Regions from separate parts of the Homo sapiens genome. Here regions 1 and 2 are each reported to be linked to region 3. Evidence: microRNA targets listed by miRTarBase, many of them from high-throughput screens and not tested one by one. Region 3 holds a microRNA gene; each other region holds the end of a gene's coding sequence.
What was found. Region 3 holds the annotated microRNA hsa-miR-6885-5p (AGGGGGGCACUGCGCAAGCAAAGCC, at 3,788-3,812, opposite strand). A microRNA usually pairs through its seed, bases 2 to 8, with sites in the 3' UTR of a target mRNA and lowers its output. Matches are read on the target gene's strand: a 7mer-m8 pairs with bases 2 to 8, a 7mer-A1 pairs with bases 2 to 7 and ends in A, and an 8mer does both.

Region 1: miRTarBase lists TMEM50A as a target of hsa-miR-6885-5p. Seed matches in the 3' UTR shown: 7mer-A1 at 1,908-1,914 and 7mer-A1 at 2,303-2,309.
Region 2: miRTarBase lists UBALD1 as a target of hsa-miR-6885-5p. The part of its 3' UTR that is shown has no 7-base or 8-base seed match.

Annotation. Positions count from the first base shown.
Region 1 is chr1:25,359,713-25,366,712 of GRCh38, forward strand. TMEM50A (transmembrane protein 50A) reads left to right here. Exons shown (of 7, transcript NM_014313.4): 7 at 948-2,649. The coding sequence ends at 993. RHCE (Rh blood group CcEe antigens) reads right to left here. Exons shown (of 10, transcript NM_020485.8): 10 at 2,537-2,841. The coding sequence ends at 2,815. Among named protein-coding and RNA genes, the nearest start is that of TMEM50A, 25 kb to the left of the region's middle.
Region 2 is chr16:4,603,936-4,610,935 of GRCh38, reverse strand. UBALD1 (UBA like domain containing 1) reads left to right here. Exons shown (of 3, transcript NM_145253.3): 2 at 381-443; 3 at 953-2,052. The coding sequence ends at 1,303. Among named protein-coding and RNA genes, the nearest start is that of UBALD1, 7.5 kb to the left of the region's middle.
Region 3 is chr19:6,385,887-6,392,886 of GRCh38, forward strand. MIR6885 (microRNA 6885) reads right to left here and starts at 3,817; the gene lies at 3,752-3,817. It overlaps GTF2F1 (general transcription factor IIF subunit 1), which reads right to left. Exons shown (of 13, transcript NM_002096.3): 2 at 6,971-7,000; 3 at 6,016-6,088; 4 at 3,558-3,751; 5 at 1,503-1,673. RefSeq lists an enhancer at 1,146-1,646.

The DNA.
Region 1 (7,000 bases), not on the chromosome of region 3:
ATGCCTCTTTCCCCTTTGATGTACTGTTTCCTGTCCCCGAAACACCTGCCTTCATCATCCCGCTAGGTCTTGTTCCTACCAATCTCCCATTCAAACCCCTGTTTTTCCACAAAAGCCCATCTCACATATTACCACCTCTGTAAATCCTTTTCTAACTTATTCAGGGTGACCGAATTCTGTGTTTCTGTGCCCCCTTAATACTTGTTATATAAGTCTCCTTCCCCAACCACCCCCACACTTACCACATCACGTTAGCAAGAATGAGAGCAATTTGAGGGCAGTGGCTTTGTATCTTATTTATAGCCCTGGCACCAAAACAGTTTGTTGAATGAATTTGATAAAATCAGACGTATAGGGCTGGGCACAGTGGCTCACGCCTGTAATCCCAGCACTTTGGGAGGCCGAGGTAGGCGGATCACGAGGTCAGGAGATCGAGACCATCTTGGCTACCATGGTGAAACCCCATCTCTACTAAAAATACAAAAAATTAGCCGGGTATGGTGGCGGGTGCCTGTAGTCCCAGCTACTCAGGAGGCAGAGGCAGGAGAATGGCATGAACCCGGGAGGCAGAGCTTGCAGTGAGCCGAGATCACGCCACTGCACTCCAGCCTGGGCGACAGAGCAAGACTCTGTCTCAAAAAAAAAAAAAAAAATCAGACATATAATGGTTACATAGTAAACACTGGTAACTTTTTAAAAGTCACATGTGTATTCAGTACTTGAAAGTTAAGGTTGTTGGGAATATGGTGGTTAATAGCACAGTTGAACATAATGGAAGAATTCACTACCTTAGAATGATCAGTTTCTGTTTTGATACATTTCGTACCAAAATTTCTTCTACAACTCATCAATTATTCTTCGTTGTTTGTTTCACACCATTCTCGAAATCTCACATACTCTTTTCTCAAATTCAGGGAGTCATGTGATATTTCTTGTTTTATTCACAGAGGGCTGGTTTTTAAGTTTGGCCGCACTGAAGACTTATGGCAGTGAACACATCTGATTTCCCACAGCACAACAGCCCTGCATGGGTTTGTTTGTTTTTTTACTGCTCACTCCCAACCTTTTGTAATGCCATTTTCTAAACTTATTTCTGAGTGTAGTCTCAGCTTAAAGTTGTGTAATACTAAAATCACGAGAACACCTAAACAACAACCAAAAATCTATTGTGGTATGCACTTGATTAACTTATAAAATGTTAGAGGAAACTTTCACATGAATAATTTTTGTCAAATTTTATCATGGTATAATTTGTAAAAATAAAAAGAAATTACAAAAGAAATTATGGATTTGTCAATGTAAGTATTTGTCATATCTGAGGTCCAAAACCACAATGAAAGTGCTCTGAAGATTTAATGTGTTTATTCAAATGTGGTCTCTTCTGTGTCAAATGTTAAATGAAATATAAACATTTTTTAGTTTTTAAAATATTCCGTGGTCAAAATTCTTCCTCACTATAATTGGTATTTACTTTTACCAAAAATTCTGTGAACATGTAATGTAACTGGCTTTTGAGGGTCTCCCAAGGGGTGAGTGGACGTGTTGGAAGAGAGAAGCACCATGGTCCAGCCACCAGGCTCCCTGTGTCCCTTCCATGGGAAGGTCTTCCGCTGTGCCTCTCATTCCAAGGGCAGGAAGATGTGACTCAGCCATGACACGTGGTTCTGGTGGGATGCACAGTCACTCCACATCCACCATTGAAGGAAAGGAAAAAAGGGCAGAGACTTGACACTCCAGTCTTAGACAGGGGACAATTTCTTTGTAGTTGTTCTGATAATAAACTGGGTTCCATGTTGCATTTCATCTGTGTACTGAACCACTAGCCTAATAGACCAGCACGGTCAACTAGAATGACAAACATTAGCTACTGGGAACTCTTGTTGTCTCTTCCTCTTCAGAACTCTTGTCCCCCCAGGCTCCCCACCTCTGCAAGATGGGATACACTCTTCAGGACCACAGTTTGAAATGTCTTTCATAAAATGTGCTACAATTAGCCTTCGGAATATTTGCTGGGTGATTTAAATGTGTGGGTCTCATTTCCATGCTAGCCATGGTCATCTGACAGTCTCTACACTGTGAATATTGCCTGGTGATCAAGACTCTCCTCAAAGAAATGACTTGCTGTCATCCCACATGAACTCCTGATGTTTTTTCTACAAAAGTCCATAAAATGTGAAAACTGGAGAAGATCTTAGAGGTTGAAGCCCACCTTCTCTTTTCACATAGGAGGGAACAGACCATGGAAATTTAAACGACTTCCTCACGGTCACAGAACTAGTTTTTTAATCCTCAGGCAGTGCATCCCCCCACCCTACAACTGAGCACAACCTCTTTCCCCACAGTGCAATTCAGAATATGCTCAGGGAATGCCAGCCACCTTGTAAAACTGCTGGGAGAAAAGCATGATTCCCACAAGGACTAAGTATCAGTGATTTGTAATTTTCCTGTTTTGTATTATCTGCTTTGCTGATGTAGACAAGAGTTAACTGAGTAGCATGCTTTATTAAGCATGAGAAAGAATCTTAAGAATTGTCAATAAAATTAACCCAAAACTTTAATAATGTGTCTGTAACCAAGAAAATATTGATAGCATCATCCTAATGAAACTAAACATTTATTTTAAACTTATTAAATTGACTCTTAAACTAAGTTTTTAGTCTTTAATTTTTTAATATCAAATCTGTCTCTGACCTTGTTTCATTATACATAAGGAGACTTTGCTGTCATGAGCGTTTCTCACGTACAAATGCAGGCAACAGTGAGAGGAAGTTGTCTTGTTTTTGAACAGGCCTTGTTTTTCTTGGATGCTTTTGCTTAAAATCCAACAGCCAAATGAGGAAACTGTAAAAGCAAAACAAACATTTTTATTGCAGATGAACCCACATACTGATTTTGGCTTGATCTCTTGAAACAGCCTAAATGTCTCATTACAAAGACCTTAGAAATTCTTTCATAAAATCTGAATTGGAAGAGATCTTGGATATATAGGTTTTATTTCATCTAACGTTTTACATGGATTGTTGATAAATGGCCATCTGGCTTTTATTTGAATGCCTCCAAAGACAGAGGACTCACTACTGCCATATGAAGTAGCTCATTCCATTTGGCAGACAGTTGAGATTGTTAGAAATTTATACTGCACCTCCCCTGGGCCTAGTTAAATTCTTTGGAGAAGTGTAGAGAAAAAGTATTTTTCTTCTACATGCCAGTTTTTTTTTTGGTTTTGTTTGGTTGGTTGTTTGTTTTGTTTGAGATGGAGTTTCGCTCTTGTCTCAGGCTGGAGTGCAGTGATGCAATCTCAGCTCACTGCAACCTCTGCCTCCCGGGTTCAAGCAATTCTGCCTCAACCACCGGAGTAGCTGGGATTACAGGCACCCGCCACCATGCCCAGCTAATGTTTGTATTTTTTAGTAGAGACGGGGTTTCACCTTGTTGGTCAGGCTGGTATCAAACTCCCAAACTCAGGTGATCCACCCGCCTCGACCTCCAAAACTGCTGGGATTACAGGCGTGAGTCACTGCGCCCGGCCTACATGCCGGTCTTTCAAGTGTTCGAAGAGCCTTCTTAGGTCTCCTCTGGCCTTCTCTTCTGCAAGCTGTGCATGCGCTGAGTTCTGAAGTGGTGCCACACCACAGCCTACCATACAACGTCACTGCATGTGGCATAAACTGGGACCACAGAACTCTGAAACCGGAAATCAGGGTAGCTAACACTTGTTTGCTAACATTTCACATACATTATCTCCTTTAAACCCTAACAACACAGTGAGACAGTTACTGTTATCTCCATGTCAGATGACGAGACTGAAGCTACAAGATCACAGAGCTGGCAGTGGTAGAACCCAGATCTGTCTGACTCCAGAGCACAAACTCTTAGAACATGGGATTTGATCTCATTTTATAGAGGAAGAAACTGAGCCCCAGAGAAGCGACCTGCCCAAGGGCACCAGCCTGCCAGTGGGTGAACTAGGACTAGAATTCAGATCTGCCTCCCAGAACACTGGCCCTCACCGAGGCTAGGGGAGTCTGTTGGCAGGCTGCTGATGTGTTTTCCTAGTTTACTTTTTTTTTTCTTTTTTTTAATATATATATTTTTTGAGACAGAGTCTCCTCACTCTGTTGCCCAGGCTGGAGTGTAGTGGCAAGATCTCAGCTCACTGCAACCTCCCCCCAGGGGTTCAAGTAATTCTGCCTCAGCTTCCCAAGTAGCTGGGATTACAGGTATGCACCACCACACCCAGCTAATGTTTTTGTATGATTTGGTTTTGTTTTGTTTTATTTTGAGATGGAGTCTCCCTCTGTCCCCCAGGCTGGAGTGCAGTGGCACGATCTCGGCTCACTGCAACCACTGCCTCCCCAGTTCAAGCCATTTTCCTGCCTCAGCCTCCTGAATAGCTGGGACTACTGGTGTGCACCACCACGCCTGGCTAATGTTTGTGTTTTTAGTAGAGACAGGGTTTCACCATGTTGGCCAAGCTGTTCTTGAACTCCTGACCTCAAGTGATCTGCCCACCTCAGCCTCCCAAAGTGTTGGGATTACAGGTGTGAGCCACGGCGCCCGGCCTGTTTTCCTACTTTAAAAGCTGGCTCTCCTTGTGTTGTTGAACAAGCGTTTGTTGGGCCCTTACTGTGTCTCTAGAACATTTATTTGAAATCAGAAGTAGGGGTGATACCACTGTGACAAGAGTAGATTTTTAAAACTTCGCGTAAAACAGCAAGAGGGACTCAACACATTTTGTTATGTTTTTGTACCAAAACAGTAGTGTTTATCTTTCTTGGCAATAAAATCATTTTAAAAAATAAACTGCAAATACTCATTCAGAAGCCAATGGATGATCTTCAGCACATTGCAGTTATTTCAGAACTCGGCCTACATGCTTAATTCGATCACTCTGCTTCACTCTCAAACTTTCATTGTAGGCATTGCTTCCCCACTCAAACCTTTGGGAATTTCCCATTTGCCTGAAGGATGAAATTGAAGTGGCTCTAGCCACCTTTCAGCCTTTTCACACACTGCCGAGCCAGGTTGCTCATGCTGCTTCTGTTCTTGCAGATGCTCCCCACCTGCCCCCCTCCTCTTGCTTGGAATGCCTTGCACTTCCTGCTGCTTAGCCAAATCCAACACAACTCCATGCTCCATTGTCCCCGACCTCCCTATGACCTCTCCCTCCTCTCATTCCAGCAGCTACTGCCAGGATTGCTTGTTTCGTATTTTACATTATTTGTATTTATTTATTTTTTGAGACAGAGTCTCACTCTGTCGCCCAGGCTGGAGTGCAGTGGCGCGATCTCAGCTCACTGTAACCTCCGCCTCCCGGGTTCAAGTGATTTTTCTGCCTCAGGCCCCTGAGTAGCTGGGATTATAGTCACGCACCACCACACCTGGCTAATTTTTTATATTTTTGGTAGAGACGTGGTTTCACCATATTGGCCAGGCTGGTCTTGAACTCCTGACTTGAAGTGATCTGTCGGCCTCAGCCTCCCAAAGTGCTGGAATTACAGGCGACCAGCCAGAATTAGTTTAAGAAGTGCATGTCAGTGAGCCCTTGTGTTTTGCAAAGCATGAAATAAAATCCATGGTTTATTAAACTGAAATAAAGAAGGGAACTGTCTATTCTTTTAATGAAAGCAGAAGACACGTGAAAGATTGTGTTATAAACTGAAGTTTTGGCCGGGCATGGTGGCTCACGCCTGTAATCCCAACATTTTGGGAGGCTGATGTGGGCAGATCACCTGAGGTCAGGAGTTCGAGGCCAGCCTGGCCAACGTGGTGAAACCCTGTCTCTACTAAAACTCCAAAAATTAGCCGTGGTGGCAGGTGCCTGTAGTCCCAGCTACTTGGGAGGTTGAGGCAGGAGAATCACTTGAACCTGGGAGGCAGAGGTTGAAGTGAGCCGAGATCACACCATTACACTCTAGCCTGAGCTATAGAGCAAGACTCTGTCTCAAAAAAATAAATAATAAACTGAATTTTTGTAAATAAGTATCTGGTGAGGACCACTGTAAACTGCAGGAGGATAGGAGATTAGCATATCTGGCTCCTTGAGACCCATAACTATATTTTATTTAGAATTATCTCTCTGGTACTTCACATCGTGTCACAAATTAGGTAATACACGTAGTGGAATGAATTAGCAAATGATGAGTGCATTTTCATAAACCTTCGGAGGATGAGATGGGTGCCCTTGGGGGGTGGTGAGTGCTCCCTCCCAGAAGTGCCAGGCGTGGTCTGGCCAACCAGCGAGGCAGTGGCTGAGCTGGCTTTAATGTCTTTCCAATCCTGGCAGTCAGTTCTATGAAATTCAATGAGTATTTAAAATGTCTTGTTGGATGGTTTGCAAAAAAAAAAAAAATCACCCCTGGATTTATCAGCTTAGCAAGTTTGCATCCTTGCCTCTTTAATGGATATTTGGCTTTCAACTGCAAGCTGAGAATGGTACACTGCCGAATAAATGGTCCTACTCAACTGCGAGAAAACAAGTCAGAAGATTTCTGGGGGTGGGGTGGGGGTGGAATAACTTTTCTCTAGTAACTGTAACCAACGCATATGTGGGGTGTCTTTGGAGCCAAAAGACATCACATTTCTTCTTTTCTATGCATTAGTTCTGTCATTTTGGGCAAGTTACTTAATCTCTCTAGGCCTCCATTTCATCATCTTCAAGACTGAGATACTTACTTTTTTTTTCTCTTTTGAGACATAGCCTTGCTCTGTCACCCAGGCTGGAGTGCAGTGGCGCAATCTCATCTCACTGCAATCTCCATCTCCCGGGCTCAAGCCATTCTCCTGCCTCAGCTTCCCAAGTAGCTGGGATTACAGGCATCCACCACCACGCCTGTCTAATTTTTTTTTGTATTTTTAGTAGAGACAGGGTTGCACCACGTTGACCAGGCTGGTTTCAAACTCCTGATCTCAAGTGATTTGCCCACCTCGGGCTCCCAAAGTGCTGGGATTATAGGCATGAGCCACCGCACCTGGGCGACATACTTACTTTTATGCAGGA
Region 2 (7,000 bases), not on the chromosome of region 3:
GGAGGTCTGGTTGGGCTACCTGGGGCCGGGCGCCTTTCCCCCAGGATGGGGTGTACTGCCCGCCCTCCCCCAGTCATGGTGCTGGTGCCAGCTGGTGCAGGGGGAGGGCTCTGCAGGCCTTAGGCACTGAGGCAGGTGGCGAGCAGCAGGGGAAGGGTCTTCTCCACCCACCCCAACTGCCCAAGGTTCCGTGGCTCCTCCTTAGACAGCAGTGAGGGTTGGGGGTGACAGGCAAGCCACTGAGCCTCAGCACCGCGACTCACCCCTCCCACTCAGCAGTCCAGCCAGGGTCATCCCCAGCCTCAGAGGAGCCTGGGAACAAGGGCAGCGGCAGGGCCGGCGGGGGCCTGGAGGGTGAGCAGGGGCCTTTCTTCCTGCAGACAGCCCTCAGCGCCTTTTTCCAGGAGACCAACATCCCCTACAGCCACCATCACCACCAGATGGTAAGTGTCCCCGGAGTCCCCAGTTCTGGATTGGGCGGAAGGAGGCCGAGCTAGTTCTGTGTATAAGCAGCCCCTGGCCCCGGTGTACGAGGGCGCTGGTGCAGGCGGGGCTCGACCTCTTTGGAGATGGGTCAGCAGGAGTCCCGGCTCCGTGGGTCCTGCACTTAATCTTGCCTGTGCCAGCTCCCCCTGAGACCTGGGGGGCGCTGGCCTCTGGGGCAATGAAGCTCCTTACCCTACAGCCCCCGGGGATGCTGTGGCTGATGGAAAGGGGTGGGCTGGGAAAGCCTCGTGGCCCCAGGCACCGTGGGCTCCTGAGAGTGAGGCTGGGTCGGTTCATCTCAAGGCTTCTCCTCTGGGAACCCCTGGGCGGCGGACAGGCTTGGGGATCTGGGGAAGGAACACAGAGCCTTCCGAGAATGGGCCAGCCACGCATCTCCCCTTGGGAGGCAGTGGGGGCCCCTCCAGGAAGGGGTGCTCACCCCATCTCTCCTCTCTTCCCCTCACAGATGTGCACCCCCGCCAATACCCCTGCTACACCCCCCAACTTCCCTGACGCTCTCACCATGTTCTCCCGTCTCAAGGCCTCCGAGAGCTTCCACAGCGGTGGCAGCGGCAGCCCGATGGCCGCGACAGCCACGTCACCCCCGCCACACTTCCCCCATGCCGCCACCAGCAGCTCTGCGGCCTCCAGCTGGCCCACGGCGGCCTCGCCCCCGGGGGGCCCACAGCACCACCAGCCACAGCCGCCCCTGTGGACTCCAACACCCCCTTCTCCGGCTTCAGACTGGCCACCCCTGGCCCCCCAACAGGCCACCTCAGAACCCAGGGCCCACCCTGCCATGGAGGCAGAGAGATAAGGGAGGCCCCTCCCCCCTCCCGGAGGCCAGGACCCCGTGGGGCGGGGGAGAGGACGTCTCTGCGGGCCCCCTTCACCCCTTTTCTGTCTGCACCCCTTGTTCCCCGGAGCCCTGGAGGGGAGAGCGCGGACTCTAGCCAGGCAGGGACACGTCTGGTGCCAGAACACGCAGCTGCCCACACGCAAGGTCATGGCCCCAGCGGCCCCGGCACATGGAGTGGTTCAGCGCGGCCTGGGTGCCTGGCGGACAGAACTTCAGAGACCACGCAGCCTTCCTTCGAAGACGCACCTGCCCAGCCCAGCCCAGGGGTGCCGTGGAGGACCACCCTGGCAGAGACATTGCTGATCCCTGGCTTGGAGCTCCTTGGGGGCCGGCAGGCCTCGACCCCCACCCTAGGGAATGCAGAGCCTCTCCGCATGTGTGCGCGTGGCCGTGTCTGTGTATTTCTACGTGTGTCGCTCTTCAGAAGCAACCTAGTTCCTGGGGCAGCTGGACTTTGCATGTTAGTGTGAGCCCCCAGCCCCCTGCCCGCCGCCCCCTCCCCAGGGCCCTGCCTCCTCCCCACCCCCTCGTCAGCCAGCGTTGCTGTTCCTTGCAGAGAAAAGGATTGTGGGAAACTCCAGGACTCTTCCCACCGCCTCCCAGCGCCTGCCTGCTGGGGCTGCCTGCATGCCTCCCCTGCACCTGGGGGTACCCGCATCCACTTCCTTTCCCCCTTTTAACAAAAGAGAAGAACGAATTCCAAACCACTGCCAGGCTCTGTGGTCTTACCTTGTATACGAGGCTTGCTGCCAGCTGGTTCTGGGGGCCGCCGCCCAGAAGACAGGGCCACCCCGAGCCTCCCCGGCTCCACACTGCTGCCTGTAGCCCTTGTCAGCCACAGCGTGCTCTGGAATCTTCCTGCCCACCCAGGGCTTTTCCTGTGAAGTTAGTTCCTGGCCTGGGTCCCCATCCTGTCGGCCCACCCCTGCCCCTGCTTGGCTGGACAGATCCCGGCGCCCAGTTAGGAGTTCGCAGGGCTCACACCTGCCTTCTGTTGTCCTGGGTTTCATCTCAGGACTTTTCTCGGTCTCGGCTCCAGTGGCTGGGCACAGGCTGGACCCTCTGAGCCCGGCCTCCAGCACACACTGGGTAGGGCAGGGCCTCTGGGCAGAGGGCAGACAGAGCCAGGGAAGCTTGCAAGGGGCAGAGGACGAGGCAGGGGACAAGGATGGGGCGGAGTGCTGCCAGCAAAGGGGGCACAGATGTTGGGTCACTTAGGAGACTGGCAACCCGAGGCTGCCTGGGATGAGCTGGAGCAGCTTTGGGAGAATGCACCCTCAGCCTCACAGCTCCCCAAGAGTGGGCTTGGACTTGGGGCAGAAGGGAGACTGGGGCCTCTGCAACACCCCCACGGGACTCAGCTCACAGCTCCTCAAGGGCAACACCCACTCTGTCTAAGATAGCACCAGCCCCTGGCGGAGGCCCTGCCGGCTGGGTGGAAGAGCATCTTCTCTTTCTGAAAGTCCCGTGCTCCCCTGGCGTCCGACACTCCCCACTGACCCTTCCTGGCTCCCAGGGATGTGACTGTGCCTCTCAGGAAGCGTGCCTCGGTGCTCTTGCCACACCAGTGCCTGGCTTCATCTCCTGGTTGGAACCTGCAGAGGCTGTGTTGACAGAGCCCACCTGGGACAGCTGCTCACTGGCTGCTTGGCACTGGCGACTGGCTGCTGTGACCTCCGCTCAAGCCGCACTTGCTTCCCAGGAATGGGCCCTCCCAGGAATCTGCCTTTGTAATAGCCTTTCGGAGCCCACAGGACGGGTGATCCTGGCCAGCCAGCTAGCCCCCTGCATCCGCCTGGGGTGCCTGGGTAGCAGGGGAGGGAGAGAACGTGGCAGGAGGAGACGGGGGGACATATCTGGCCTCCTGAGTCTTTACTTTGCAGCTCCTCGATTCTTTGATATGGAAAAAAAATTCTCAGGAAACTGCCATAGCCGCCTTCCAGTGGTGGGAAAAATGCTTTGCAGAGAGAAGTGTTTTGGGGTAATCTGCAAAGTGGGGTGAGTGCCCCTGGACTCTCCCACCTCACATGCTGAGGTAGCTGCACGTGCCCGCCATGCATGAGGCAGCGCTGTCCAGGACTCTGCACAGTGTGAGGCTCGTGAGTGCTGTGTTTTTGTTTTTGTTTTTTGAGACGGAGTCTTACTCAGTCACCCAGGCTGGAGTGAAGTGGTGCCATCTCAGCTCACTGCAACCTCTGCCCCCCAGGTTCAAGTGATTCTCTTGGCTCAGCCTCCCTGGTAGGTGGGACTGCAGGCACCCTCCACCACGCCTGGCTAGTTTTTGTATTTTTAGTAGACACGGGGTTTCACCATGTTGGCCAGGCTGGTCTTGAACTGCTGACCTCAAGTGATCCACCTGCCTTGGCCTCCCAAAGTGCTGAGATTACAGGAGTGAGCCACCGCGCCCCGCGGGGAGTTCCATTTATTAAACACCATGAGCCCTGGGGTGGCCTGTAGTGAACCACACCCTCACTATTCAAGGCATGGTTCGGACCCCAGCATCAGCCAGGAGCTTGTTAGAGTGAGGCTGCAGCCCAGACTCCCCGAATCAGAAACTGATTGAACAGGAGCCCCTGGTTCCAGATAGACATCAAAGTTTAGGAATTGTCCCTACACTTCATCCCTACATCGTCACTAATACCGGGGAAACTGTCCCACCACCCTCATTTCTGTTTCTGGGGGCCACTGTGGGCTGGGCCTGGGGGTCTCAAGTGGTCACATTAAGGACGGGAGAGACTTGAGGTTCCTGCAGGGCTGGCTTTTTCAGCGTGGTCACTGTTGACATTGAGGGCTGTGTTATTGTCCTGCAGTGGTGCTGAGCAGTATCCCTGAGCCCTCCCCACTGAATCCAAGGGCAGCCCCCTTATTAGGACAATCGGAAGTGTTTGCAGCCAGTGCTCATGTCTCCTACAGGCCACCATGGTCCCAGTGGAGTGCCTCTGTGCTAGTTCTGTGGCTCTCATACCTGGCTGCACAGCAGGTAAAATAAAACTGGCAAACCACAGGTTCGTTGGCCTCATGCCATCAGACTCTCTGGGCCGAGGCCGAGGCCGAGGCCCTGACGTACAATCGTGGAAGCTCCCTGGGTAGATGATGGTGATTGATCTGTGACTGTACCAAAAGCCACTCAATGGCATGCTTTAGAAATGTGGACGTTCTGGTGTGTCAATTATACCTCAAGGCTGTTATTGAAAATAAAACAGGCTGGGCAGGTGGCTCACGCCTGTAATCCTAGCACTTTGGGAGGGTGCAGCGGGGGGATCATGAGGTCAAGAGATCGAGACCATCCTGGCCAACATGGTGAAACAGCCGTCTCTACTAAAATACAAAAAATTAGCTAGGCGTGGTGGCGGGCGCCTGTAGTCCCAGCTACTCGGGAGGCTGAGGCAGGAGAATCGCTTGAACCCAGGAGGTGGACGTTGCAGTGAGCAGAGATCGCTCCACTGCACTCCAGCCTGGAGACAAAGCAAGACTCCACCTCAAAAGAAAAAAAAAAAAAAACAGAAAAAAATGAAAATAGCTCCTTTCACATATATTTTTACGTGCCATCTAGTCATGCCCCCCACATCGTGAGTGGGAGCCTGCAGACTCGATCCCCGGACTTCCAGAGCACAAGCGTCCCCTGGGTGCTTGCTGAACACCCACGTTCCCGGCCTCTCCCTTGAGGCAGTTGTTCTGGAGGAGGGTCAAAGAATCTGATTTGTGTTTTAGAGATAGGGTCTTGCTCTGTTCCCCAGACTAGAGTGCAGTGATGCAATCATAGCTCACTACAGCCTTGAAATCCTGGGCTCAGGTGATCCTCCCACCTCAGGCTCCCAAGTAGCTGGGACTACAGGTGCACGCCACCACACCTGGCTAATTTTTTTTAAATTTTCTTGTAGAGATGAGGTCTTGCTATGTTGCCCAGGCTGCCCTTGAACTCCTGGCCTCAAGTGATCCTCTTGGCTTGGCCTCCAAAAGTGCTGGGATTACAGGCGTGAACCACCTCACCCAGCCCCAGATCTGATTTTTAATAAGTGCCCCAGGCCAGGTGGGAACCACTCCCAGTGGGAGCAGTCTGGGAGCCTTGGGGAGGGCAGGGCTGGGGCTGGGGCTGGCAGTGCAGGTGTTTTCCGGCAGATGCAGAGGCCCTACCAGGTGTGCTTGGAGCCCTTGGTCGCAGGGGCATCTTACAAAAAGAAGGGGGCTGTGCACGTGGGCTAGGACTAACTCTAGGGGAGCCAGAGGTGGGCCTACGAAATCACCACATGCCCCAGACCTTGAATGTGACACAAAGAACCTGGAGCCTCCCATGACTTCTCTAAGCCTGGAAAATCGAAAGCAAAACCAACCGGAGGCCAGACACGGTGGCTCACACCTGTAATCCCAGCCCTTTGGGAGGCCGAGGTGGGTGGATCACCTGAGGTCAGGGGATCAAGAGCAGCCCTACCAACATGGTGAAACTCCATCTCTGCTAAATACAAAAACTTAGCTGGGTGTGGTGGTGCATGCCTGTAATCCCAGCTACTCAGGAGGCTGAGGCAGGAGAATCGCTTGAACCCAGGAGGCAGAGGTTGCGGTGAACCGAGATGGCACCACTACACTCCAGCCTGGGCAACGAGCGAAACTCCGTCTCAAGAAAAAAAATCAGGAGAGTTTATGGGAAAAGCCTCACTTCCGACTTATCTTGGAAACTGGAAGATTTGGTGCAAATTCCCTTAAGGCCATAACTGGCTGAAACTGACCATGGCACTGGGGACACGGCGTGGCCTGCCCCTGCCAGCCTGCTCTACGCCACCACAGCCATGCACGAGTCCAACTCCTGCGTGGGAATCGGCTGGAATCCCTGGAGGGGGTCTGTCTTTTCACCACGGGGAGCTTCAGAAGTAAATGCCCTGTCCAGTGGGGTAGGATGAACGGCGGTGGGCAGGGCTCCCCCTGGAAACGGCCGTGAAAACAGACGGCTTGTTCTGCAAGATGCTCTCGGTCGAGAGGGACTCACCAGGGGCTGCTGAGTGTCCCCAGGGTCTTTGCAGCGGTCCAGCCAGGGTTCTCTGAGAACACCCTGCGGTCAGCCACAGGGAACCAGGCTGTCTCCGAGGCTGACTGCGGGGCTGGGTGGGGCTGCTGTGGCCCTGGAGGTCTCTGAGGGGCTTTCACAGCAGTCCCTGGCACAGGACAGATGAGTCCTTTGACTCCGGTCTTCTTCCCCGAATACGGGAGACCTCCTAGGTTGGCCGGAATGGAGTTCTTTTGACACAAGGCTACTTCTAATTCCTGCGTTTGGAAAGTTCTCTGGGTTTTTGAGCACTGCTCATATTTGGACAACGGATGTATTTCAACAGAGCCTTAAAAGAACACGGCTGTTTTGGAGGTGAGGGGCTACCGAGTCCTTTTAGGGAGGGCAGAAATTGGGGGCCCCTTCCAGGATGACCAAGGACTTGTCAGTGGCACAGCACTAGGCACCGAGGAGCCTGCTGGTGAAATTCTGCTCTGCTTCCCGGGGTCATCTCTCATCTCCTGGGGAATTGCAAAGCCACGATCTTGATGGAGTCATTTTGTCCTCATCCCAGTGGAGCCACGAGCAAGGTGAGGGAGGCAGAGGAGAGAAACCCTTGTCTGCCGGTTGTGTGTGTGGAAGGTCTCTGCTTAGAGCTCGCACATCCATGGAGAGTC
Region 3 (7,000 bases):
CACGGTGAAACCCCATCTGTACCAAAAAAATAGAAAAAAATTAGCCGGGCATGGTGGCAGGCGCCTGTAGTCCCAGCTACCCAGGAGGCTGAGGCCAGAGAATGGCATGAACCCGGGAGGCGGAGCTTGCAGTGAGCTGAGATCGCGCCACTGCACTCCAGCCTGGGTGACAGAGCGAGATTCGGTCTCAAAAAAACAAAACAACAAAACTAAAACAGGCCGGGCGTGGTGGCTCACGGATGTAATCCCCACACTTAGGGAGGCTGAGGGGGGCAGATCACCTGAGGTTAGGAGTTTGAGACCACCTGGCCAACATGGTGAAACCCTGTCTCTACAAAAAATACAAAGTTAGCCAGGCGTGGTGGTGCATGCCTGTAATCCCATTTCTCTACTTGGGAGGCTGAGGCAGGAGAATTGCTTGAACCTAGGAGTCGGAGGTTGCAGTGAGCTGAGATTGCGCCACTGCAGTCCAGCCTGGGCAACAAGAGCGAAACTCAGTTCAAAAAAAAACACACAAACAAACAAACAAACAAAAAAACACCAAAGAGGGAAAAAGGTGTTTTATTTGTTTTGTTTTGAGACGGAGTCTCGCTCTGTCGCCCAGGCTGGAGTGCACTGGCAACATCTAGGATCACTGCAAGCTCCGCCTCCCAGTTCACGCCATTCTCCTGCCTCAGCCTCCCGAGTACTGGGACTACAGGCGCCCGCCACCATGCCCGGCTAATTTTTTGTATTTTTAGTAGAGACGGGGTTTCACCGTGTTAGCCAGGATGGTCTCGATCTCCTGACCTCGTGATCCGCCTGCCTTGGCCTCCCAATGTGCTGGGATTACAGGCGTGAGCCACCACACCCAGCCGAAAAAGGTGTTTTTTTAACCTTTGGGAGCCATCGACTCTTTGAGCATCTGCTCATCTGTGACCTGTGCAAATGCCATTTGTAGATGCGTCCAGAGTGCCCTCCCCACCATCTGCAAGCACCCTAGGGTGGTGGTGGCCCTACGGTCTCATCCAAAGCCATACATCCAAGACCAAGTGCTCTGGGCCCCCAGCCTCGTCCCCCTGCCCACAGTCACTCTGCACTGGCCTCATGCACTGTGTCCCTCCACAGCCCTTAACTGCACCCGCCCCACCTCTGAGGCCGATGTCACTGCTAGAGAAACCCTCCTCGGGTGCCCTGCCTGGAGCTGCTGCCCTGCAGTGGATCAGGCTGTGTGACCTGCAGCCTGCGGAAAGCCAAGGGGGCAGTTAGACCCCACCCTGCTCTGCCAATTTGAGCTCCGGGTCACAGACTCTGGCTCTGGCAGCACCCTCTGGGGTGCCCCATTGTGGCCCTAAGGCCTCCTATCTGTTTCCTCCTGAACTGACAGCTCTGAGACGGCCGAGTGGGGTCTGCCCTGGTTACCCCTGAGTCCCCAGCTCCCAGCACAGGGCCTGGTGATATATCCATGGCAAGGCACCCCATTTCCCTCACTTCTGTCCCCAGCCACCACCCAGCCCACTCACCTCTCCCACTCCTCCTCGGCCTCCTCGGCAGTGAGCGTGCGATGCCGGGCCAGCGGTGTGAAATTGTACCAGTTGTGCACGGGGAAGGCCTCGAAGGCCCCGTCGGGGCACTGGGTGAAGATGTAGTAGGACGTGTTCTCTGTTACGCCTCCCTTCTTGATGCCCTTGAACCTGCAGGGAGCCACGGTCATGGCCTGGCCCATAGGGACCAGCCCCAGCCCCCCCGTGTCCCCCCGGGGCCTGCCTCCTTTATGGCACTTGCCATAGGAGGAAGACCAAGAAATGCCCATGAGGCCTGGGCAGGCCCTTCAACCACCTGGGCCTCGTCAATTTCCACATCTGGGGAACAGGGCCGGCGCACCTACCCTGCAAAGTGCTGGGCGTGTGCACATCGGGATCATTTCTGGAAAGACTGTGTGAGATTATCTCAGGAGAGCCCAACCCTGCAGTCAAACTGTCTACATTTGCCTCCAGCTCTGCTATCTGTGGGCCACACCCGGGAAACTGAGGAGCCAAGTGAGAAGATGGGGCGGGAAGGCATGGCCAAATTTTTTTTTTTGAGATGGAGTCTCGCTCTGGCACCCAGGCTGGAGTGCAGTGGCACCATCTCAGCTCACTGCAACCTCCACCTCCCGGGTTCAAGCAATTCTCATGCCTCAGCCTCCCGAGTAGCTGGGATTACAGGTGTCTGCCACCACACCCAGCTAATTTTTGTAGTTTTAGTAGAGACAGGGTTTCACCATGTTGGCCAGGCTAGTTTCGAACCCCTGACCCCACGTAATCCGCCCGCCTCTGCCTCCCAAAGGGCTAGGATTACAGGCGTGAGCCACCGCGCCCAGCCATGGCATGGCCAAATCTGAAGTGGACACCTGGCCCGGGCCACCATTTCCTCAAGCCTAAACAACTGCCCAGCCTCCTTGAGGCCTCTACCTCATTCTTTTCTACCCCAAAGTTCCGGACAGTCTGGGTGAGTGCCTCTTCCCTGCCTACAGCTTTCCAAGGCTCCGCTGGACCCAGCACATCCTGGCACCCACTGCCCTGTGTGAGCTGCCTGTGTCTGTCACTATCACCCAACTGCTGTGCCTGGAGCACCCTTCATCAACCTAACCTGGACCCCTCCTGTTCTGCCCTCAGTCTGCCCCCTCTGAGAGGTCATCTCAAGTGTCATGAGCTCCCAGGGCTGGCCACCTAAGCTTCCTGCATTGTGGCACTCAGAGCTGCCTCAGAGCCAGGCACAAGCACCAACTCAGTGAACTGTCTTCAAAAACACAACCCCAGGGCCTGGGCAGTGGCTCATACCTATAATCCCAGCACTTTGGGAGACCAAGGTAGGAGGATCACTTGACCCCAGGAGTTCAAGACCAGCTTGAGCAACGCAGCAAGACCCCATCTCTACCAAAAATACAAAAATTAGCCAGGCATGGTGGGGCGTGCCTATAGTCCCAGCTACTCAGGATGCTGAGGTGGGAAGATCTCGAGCCCAGGAGTTGGAGCCTGCAGTGAGCTACGATCGCACCACTGCACTCCAGCCTGGGCAACGGAGTGAGACCCTGTCTCAAAATAAATAAGTAGGCTGGGCACGGTGGCTCACGCCTGTAATCCCAGCACTACGGGAGGCCGAGGCGGGAGGATCGCCAAGTTCGAGACCAGCCTGACCAATATGGTGAAACCCTGTCTCTACTAAAAATACAAAAATTAGCTGGGCGTGGTGGTGGCAGGCACCTGTAATCCCAGCTACTCAGGAGGCTCAGGCAGGAGAATAACTTGAACCTGGGAGGTGTGGGTTGCAGTGAGCCAAGATCGTGCTACTGCACTCCAGCCTGGGCGACAGAGCAAGACTCTGTCTCAAAAAAATACAAGTAAGTAAAATAAGATAACATAAATAAATAAATAAATAAATAAATAATAAAATCCTACAGGGATGGAAGTGCCAGCACTTCCACTGCAGCAGTGGGAATCTGAGGTTCAGAGAGGGTACCCCACAAAGTATGTAAGTTGAGGCCTGGGGATGTGGACTGGTCACTAAGCCGGCACCGCCACCGCCCCACCACTTACTTCCTGCCTGATTTGCCGTTGACCCGGAGCAGCCAGGGCTGGTCCTCGGGCCGGAACTCCTTGAGGACGATGCCGTACTTCTTCCTCCGAGCCTCCTCCCGAAGCTTGCGGTTGAACTCACTGCCCGCGCCCGATTCGGGCATCTCCTCCTCTTGGTAGATTTTCTTGTTGCTCAAGTCCCGCTCCAGCCGAGCCTAGGGGAGCAGGAAGCAAAGCCTCTCAGGGTCCCTGGCTTTGCTTGCGCAGTGCCCCCCTCCAGGAACGCCCTTCCTTGCCCTAGGCCAAGCTCTAGATTCTCAAAACCAACTTACCACTTGGCAACAAGGGAGGAGAACGGTAGCCTTTGACAAATCTGGGTAAAGGGAATTTGGGCGAGCCTTGCGCTCTATTTTTGCAACTTAAAAGCTTGAAATTATTTCCAAATTAAAATTAAAGAGAAAAAGACCACCTGGTGACCATCAAGCAGGCCATCGGAGGCAAAATTCCTTATCTGAGGAATGTAGAAGTAATTAATTAGACTTCCCTATTATCTACAGCAGGCATCTGGTTCCAGGATTCTTTTCAAAAAATGTCTAAGTACCTAGAATTTCCACACATCTCTCCAGAATGCATGCATATCGAAACTCATTGTGCTGTGGCTCACACCTGTAATCCCAGAACTTTGGGAGGCCAAGGCAGAAGGATCACTTGAGCTCAGGAGTTTAAGACCAGCCTGGCATCAGAATGGCTTGAACCTGGGAGGCGGAGGTTGCAGTGAGCCGAGATCATGCCACTGCACTCCAGCCTGGGTGATAGAGTGACACTCTGTCTTAAGAAAAAAAAGGCCAGGCGCGGTGGCTCACGCCTGTAATCCCAGCACTTCGGGAGGCCAAGGCAGGTGGATCACGAGGTCAGGAGATTGAGACCATCCTGGCTAACACGGTGAAACCCCGTCTCTACTAAAAATACAAAAAATAAGCCGGGCATGATGGCAGGCGCCTATAATCCCAGCTACTTGGGAGGCTGAGGCAGGAGAATGGCGTGAACCCGGGAGGCGGAGCTTGCAGTGAGCCGAGATCCTGGCGCTGCACTCCAGTCTGGGCGACAAAGCAAGACTCAGTCCCCAAAAAAAAAAAAAAAAAAAAAAAAGACCAGCCTGGGCAACATAGTGAGATCCTATATCTATTTCCTAAAAATAAAAAGGCTGGGCATGGTGGAAGGCTGAGGCGGGTGGATCACTTGAGGTCAGGAGTTCAAGACCAGCCTGACCAACATGGCGAAACTTCGTCTCTACTAAAAATACAAAAATTAGCTAGGCGTGGTGGTGGGCGCCTGTAATCCCAGCTACTTGGGAGGCTGAGGCAGGAGAATGGCTTGAACCTGGGAGGTGGAGGTTGCAGTGAGCCCAGGTCGCGCCACTGCACTCCAGCCTGGATGACAAGAGACTCCATCACAAAAAAATAAAATAAAATAAATAAAAAGAAACTCATTGTGCAACACTTGCTGACATTAAGGCACCAAAATCTCTACAAATTAACAATTTATCGTGACCTACATGGCTAATGTGATCCGAATTACCCTTAAGCTCTTGATTTAAGGTCCATATATACCATTTCCAAAACACTCTAGAATCAGCCACATCTCATAACCTCCACTGCCTCCAGTGCCCTGCCAGGACTCACCTAGACCAGTCCAGTTGCTTCTACCTTGGTCTCCGTTTATTTGCCCTCAAACCCACAGTTTGTCTCCCCATAGCAGCCAGATCACACACACTACAACTTCCCAATTGAAGATGCTTTAATGGCTCCCAAAGTCCTTTCTAGAGCCTCTGATGGCAGGGGCTCTGGGAAAGCCCCCAGCCCAGTCCCCTCCCTTGCCCAGATAAACCATGGCCAAAAATGTCCAACAGTGGGCACAGCTTCTAAATGTTCTCCTTTAAGGAGAGGCCTCTGGTGGGCCTACCAAACCTAACTTACAGGGACACCCAGGAGCTAGGCCTGGGCCTTTGCCATTTCCGTTTTTTTTTTTTTTTTTTTTTTTTTTTTTTTGAGGCAGGGTCTTGCTCTGTTATCCAGGCTGGAGTGCAGTCGTACAATCATAGCTCACTGCAGCCTTGAACCCCTGGGCTCAAGCGATCCTCCTACCTCAGCCTCCTATGTAGGACTACAGACCCACGCTATCAGCCCCAACTAACTTTTTAATTTTTTTGTAGAGTTGGGGTCTTGCTATTGTATTGCCCAGGCTGGTCTCAAACTCCTGGCCTTAAGCAAGCTTCCTGCCTCAGCCTCCCAAAGTGCTGGGATTACAGGTGTGAACTACTGCACCCAACCCTTTGTCATCTATCTTTTCTTCACTTGGAGAAAAGTGAGAAAATTAAGACTTAGTGACTATGACAGTTAAGCAACTATCACAACCACCAAGGTCAGGGTCAAGTTCTCTCACCACCCCAGCCCCTGACCCCCAGGACTCAGAGACTTACCTGATTCCACGTAGCAAAGTTGACTTTGTCGGCTGCATTAAAAGCCATGATGTTATATTTTTTGGTTGTATTCCTGGAGTGGATGAGAAGAGGTAGTGTCAATCCAATACAGCAATTCAATCATTAATTTAATCAGTCAATGCTATTGAACCATTAATTCAATCAACCACCCAACTGGATCGTTAATTCAATCAAATCATTACTTTAATTCAATCACTCAATTCAATTGAACCATTAATTCAATTCAATCATTCCATTCAATTGAATCATTAATTCAATTCAATTCACTCAACAAACCCACCCAGCTTCATTCAGCCTGTTTTGCCTGGCAACACTGGATACGGAAGACTCCAAGGATTCCCAGTCTGCCAGAGAAGCTAGACCCATCCTCTCCTGACCCCAGGCAGAAGAAGAGCAGATGGAGGGACGAAGATTTGGGGGAACCCAAGATGTGGAGATTATTGTGAACTCAGCCTTGGGGAGGAGGGAGGACAGGCAGGGAGTATTTCCTGGAGGAGGAAGATACTGGAGTTGAGTTTTGCAGAATCATCAAGAATTCACCCAGCAGAGTCACAGTTTAGGGGTTGAGGGGAGGCACTCATGGCAGAGGAACAGGATGTACAAAGGCCTGGAAAGGAAAGACAGCCTGACCACTTTGAAACAGGACGAGGAATATGTCCTTACAGCTGGCCTGGGCATCATGGGACCATATACTCCTCGAAGGTTAGGCCAGGGGGCTGGATCACCGTGTATTAATGCACTCATTCATTCATTCGTTCAAAAAAGCAGTGTTGTCCCCAGAGAAGCCTCAGCTTAATCCCAGCCCTGCCCTCCAAGTCTCTCCCGGTCTGGAGGGAGAACCACAGACAGGGCCAGAAATGGCTGGCTAAGAAGATCGTGAAGGTTTTCATTTTTGGGGGGTGGAGAGGAGTGGGAGATGGGGCTGGGGACTTACTTAGGAACTCGAACGACGTATTCAGTGACA